2 separate regions of the Homo sapiens genome follow, and region 2 is linked to region 1. Evidence: fine-mapped expression QTL. Tissue or cell type: whole blood. Region 1 holds a variant in brackets; the other region holds the start of a gene. All regions are shown on one strand. Distances are between the middles of the regions.

Region 1 (2,686 bases):
CTGGTCTTGAACTCCTGACCTCAGGTGATCCACCCACCTCAGCCTTTCAAAGTGCTGGGATTACAGGCGTGAGCCACCACGCCCGGCCCCACATACTTTTAAACGACCAGATCTCATGAGAACACACTCACTATCGTGAGTACAATACCAAAGAGAATAGTGCTAAACAATTCATGGGAAACCTGCCCTCATGATCCAACTGCCTCCCATCAGGCCCCAGTTCCAACACTGGGGATTACAATTCAACACACAATTGGGCGGAGATACAGATCCAAACTCTATCACCAGCCCTCCTGCTTTCACCTCCCCCGTTTTAGACAACCAGCGTTTGAATTGCCTCTTCCACTTCTGTGCCAAATTATGACTCTGAAGTGGATGCCTGTCTGCCCATTGTTGGACATTATGGGCTGTATAGAGTGCTCCTTTTTCTGAAGCAATGACGTTGGCCATCAAGATTAATGCAGTATCTCCTGTTCTGTTTTTTTTTTCCCCTTTTTCTTTTCTTTTTTTTCTTTTCTTTTTTTTTTTTTGAGACAGAGTCTCCCTCTGTCTCCCAGGCTGGAGTGCAATGGCACGATCTCGGCTCACTGCAACCTCCGCCTCCTGGGTTCAGGTGATTCTTCTGCCTCAGCCTCCCGAGTAGCTGGGATTGGCTAATTTTTTTGTATTTTTGTAGTGACGGGGTGTCACCATGTTTGCCAGGTTGGTCTTGAACCCCTGACCTCAGGTGATCTGCCCACCTCAGCCTCCCAAAGTGTTGGGATTACAGGCATGAGCCACCGTGCCTGGCCTTTTTTTTTTTTTTTAATGGCACTCTGAGTATTTGCATCTTCTACCATGCAAACAAAGCCCAGTCCAGAGACAGCGTCTATTCCTGTCAAGACCTAGATGTAGCCCCCCAGGGCTGCCAGCATCCATCTCACTTGCCAGTTATGCTAAGAGCTTTCCCACCAGGGAATGTGCCTCACAGCCATGGGCAGTCTCTTTTCTCTTGCTGGCAGACAGAACAGTTCTTTTTTTTTTCCTTTTTTTTTTTTTTTTGAGAGGTTGTTCCACTCTTGTTGCCCAGGCCGGAGTCCAATGGCGTCATCTCGGCTCACCGCAACCTCCACCTCCTGGGTACAAGCAATTCTCCTGCCTCAGCTGGGATTATAGGCATGCACCACCACGCCCCAGTAATTTTGTATTTTTAGTAGAGATGGGGTTTCTCCATGTTGGTCAGGCTGGTCTCGAACTCCCAACCTCAGGTGATCCATTCACCTCGGCCTCCCAAAGTGCTGGAACTACAGGCTTGAGCCACCACACCCAGTGACAGAATAGTTATTGGCATTTTGAGCCC[G/A]AGGGTCATGGCTAGATTTAGCCCATCTCTGCACTGCTGCAGAGCCACCTTGTTCACTCATTTCATGGACCCAGGTGACCACCTCACAGGAGCACACAGAAAAATCTCACTTGGTGACCCCAGCCACCTCCTGAGCCTGGAAGGGAGTTTTTCTGATGGGCATGAACCTGTTCTACTTCAAGACATCTTTCCCATCTCCACAGGGCTGTGCCCCATATGGATATCCCGTTAATAAGCCAGGTGGCTATTGCCCTCTTGCCTGAGTGTACAGCCAAGACACTGGTCACTGCCCAGGAGTCAGTCAAAACCCAAACACGGGGCTTCTACCACTGTTCGACTGATCAAATATATATTTCACAATATCACACTCCTGTAGAACACTTTGGAACACACACCATGATTCTTTGAAAATCAGTTATTGATATCATTCTAGTATAAATCAGCAGCAAGGAAAACAGCATGCAATTCAACTCACTGAGCAGACTGATTTTTATCATCTTTAGCCAGAGTAGCAGCCCTCCAAACAGGATGTTGTTTGTTCACCTCGAAATTATCATCCATAGACCAAACAACTGGGGGTGAGTGAGTTGAGAGCTGGTTATATAGGGCATTGTCGAACTGCTGATAGAATCCAGCAGCTCCTCACTGTTCCAGTCAGTCGTAGGAGAAAAGAGGTTCCCTCCTTGGGAATATCTCATCCCTGCATTCCCCACATAGCATGATGCTGTATAAACCATTTCTGTTTTATTATGTTTCTTTCTTTTTTTTTTTTTTTTTTTTTCTGAGATGGAGTCTTGCTCTTGTCGCCCAGGCTGGAGTGCAATGGTGCGATCTTGGCTCACTGCAACTTCTGCCTCCCAGGTTCAAGCTATTCTCCTCCCTCAGCCTCCCAAGTAGCTGGGATTACAGGCATCCACCACTATGCCTGGCTAATTTTTTGTATTTTTAGTAGAGACGGAGTTTCACCATGTTGGTCAGGCTGGTCTCAAACTCCTGATCTCAGGTGATCCACCCACCTCGGCCTCTCAAAGTGCTGGGATTACAGGTGTGAGCCACTGTGCCCAGCCTCATTAGAGTGTTTCTATGATGTCACTTGAGACAGCATGGGTATTTCAGGTGTCAAGATCATTTTATGGGCCGGGAGTTTTTGCTGGGAGACGGTGACAGGCTTTTTCCATATGCTGCATTAGAGGCTCCATAGAGGGGTTATTGAATGGAGAATATGTCCCTCCCAGCTCAGCAGCTTCCACTCTGCACTTTGTGGGCTGGGGACAATCTTACTGGCTCCCATCTCACGTCCCACTAATATTGCTTGAAGGACAAGTCAGATACAAAGTCCATTCCCTA
Region 2 (2,686 bases), 380 kb before region 1:
AAGCTTGCGTTTCCCTGTTAGGAACCTCGGTGGTGGCCGGAGCTCTGAGAAACCCCTAGGCAGAAATCCTTGCCTAGTTTGTGGCAGAAATCAGGGAAGGAAAGGCAAAGTTCAGGTCTTTCTCACAATAAATAAATAAAGATAGCTAGATTTGATTGATTGGTGGATGGATGAAACGTGGGAGTTTATGGGCAAATATTTATCAGACACTGGAAGTGTAAGTTGTCACAAAGATTATGGAGTGCACCTGTCTTATGACCCTGTTATTTTATCCCAGTATATGCACTAGAGCATTTTTTGTAACTGTGTAAATTGAAGGCTTATAAATTAGTTTAGTGAGAGAAAAGATAACGGATTGGAAGAGAATTACCATATTCATTAGTTGTGTTTTTAAAATTTTAAAGTAAAATAGAGACATGATTTTTTTCATGCTTTCGAATGCATTTATAAAAAATAGACTTGAGGGCTGGGCGCAGTGGCTCACGCCTGTAATCCCAGCACTTTGGGAGGCCGAGGAGGGCGGATCACGAGGTCAAGAGTTCGAGACCAGCCTGACCAACATGGTGAAACCCCGTCTCTACTAAAAATACAAAAATTAGGTGAGTGTGGTGGCGCGCACCTGTAATCCCAGCTACTCAGGAGGCTGAGGCAGGAGAATCGCTTGAACCCGGGAAGCGGAGGTTGCAGTGAGCCGAGATCGCACCATTGCTCTCCAGCCTGGGTGACAGAGTGAGACTCCGTCTCAAAAAAAAAAAAAAAAAAAAAGTTACTCATTAATAGCATAGACCAATTGGCCTCTATTGAAATTTCTCCATTATTTTCACAATGTGCCAGGCTGTGAAACCAGGATTTAATAAAGAACCAGAATGCCACATCTGTGTCACCTGGGTAGGGACCAGTCCTGATCCATTAAGTCCGGGTCTCTGGGTAACTGGACTCACTGCTGGGCAAAACAGAATGTCCGGCTTGGGTTCCTAACCGGGGACCGCAGAGCCTCATGGGAAATGTAGTGTCACCTTCCAATGATGTTACCATCAAGGACCTTGGGAACCAGCTTTTCTCTCTGCGCATGCGCCGCCCCGCCCACTCCGCCATTTTCCTCCGGAAGTGCGGCACCCAGAGGCGGTCTTGTAGCTGGGCCAGCCTGGGGCTTGGTTCTATGTCCCTGCGGGTCGGTGCGAGGGCGAAGAGGAACCCGTGGGCCCGGGGGATCCCGGGGGGCCGGACCAGTGTTCCCCAGTTGTGGGAGCAGACGCGTGGGCGCATCGCGGGCGGGCAGGGCCTGAAGTGCAGGTGCAGGCCGCGGACCCTGGCGGGGGCTGGGAGGACAGGCGTGGGGTCCCGGCAGTGAAGCGGGTTCTAGAGGCGCAGGAGCGGGTAGGCGAGGCCGGTGGCCCTGGGCCCGGAGTCTGCAGGCCGCGCTCCTGTCCTGCCGCTGAGGGAGCCGGTTACCAACCCGCATGACGCTCAGTTTGCCCATCTGTCCCAGTGCGAACACACAGTTCTCGGGAGACGTTCCCCATTCCCAGAGGAGTAGTGCGAAACGCGTGCGCCTCGAGTCTTAAACTGGGCGTTTGTATTAGTTGGGTTTCCCGGTGTCTCTTTAGCAAGTGAAGTTTCTGGTTCCCTCCTTCACTGTGTGACCTGCCTAGTCCTCCTGGGTTGCGTTTACAGAAGTTTATACGAGACCTAGTTTCCAGGGAAGAACTCACTGATGCCGCGAGGGAGATGGGGTACTGGATGATGGTCTTCAGCCTTAAGGGTACTTCAGTCTTAACCGTGTGTTATAAGGTTTGAAAGGGAGGGTTCCCTATGAATAAGAAGCGCACTTGAAAGAACAGCCCTCTGGTCTAACCTCCCACTGGTGCTTCAGAGGAGGATAAAAGGTCACAGGTGAAGATCCCAGTTTTCCTCGCTCGGGAAATATTAATTCTACTCCCTAGAATGCACAAGATTTGCAAAGACTAGGTGACAGTGGTAGGTTTGGACGAACTTTCAGAAGGTTGAGGTGAATTCGGCTGAGAAGAACAGGCAAGGACCTAGGAAATATTCCTTATTTGAAGGGGCCTGAAAGTGTGGTCTGGGGTACAGGAGTGACCTGTCATACCTGAGAAGATTAAAATACTCTCCAAACACAGTCCCATTCCTTCAACCTTTCCTCGTTGTTTCCAGCGTTTGAGATATATTAAACCTAGTCCATCACCAAATTTAGCTTTAGCATTAGATTGTGAAGTTCTATCGATTGTATTTGATTTGTAATTTAAGACTTTCTCCCCCTACGTAATTTTGTTAAAAACATATTGAATTCTGTTCACTTAGGTGTAACAGTTAATACTTGCTGTTTAAGGAACTAATTAAACCTTACTGGCTTATAAAAAACAACCACCATTTTATTTGTTTGAAGTTCTGTGGATCTGCATTTTGGTGTGGTGGGTTCAGCTGGGTAGTTGATATATTTATGTTGCCTGGATCACAAAAGAGGCCTTGGTCACATGGTGGGTTGACTGAGCCTGGTTGGTTTAAGATAGTTTCCTTCACAATCTGGCGGTTTGTGGTGACTCTTGGCTAGGCCCTGTGTCTCCACCAGGGTAGCTCCAGACCTCCTCACAATATGACTGTGTCCAAAAAGGCAAGAACCAATGGATATTTGCATCACATTTTCCATTGTCCATTCACTGGACAAGTC

What was found. PIP is the estimated chance that this variant, and not a neighbour inherited with it, causes the effect.
Region 2: it holds the start of ZNF717, and the variant in region 1 is fine-mapped to the expression of ZNF717 in whole blood (TOPMed, PIP above 0.99).

What each region holds. Positions count from the first base shown.
Region 1 is chr3:75,408,512-75,411,197 of GRCh38, reverse strand. No RefSeq gene overlaps it. Among named protein-coding and RNA genes, the nearest start is that of LINC02018, 25 kb to the left of the region's middle. The variant G/A (reference allele first, on the strand shown) is at 1,340.
Region 2 is chr3:75,783,991-75,786,676 of GRCh38, reverse strand. It overlaps ZNF717 (zinc finger protein 717), which reads left to right and starts at 1,128. Exons shown (of 5, transcript NM_001290208.3): 1 at 1,128-1,293. RefSeq lists an enhancer at 866-1,015.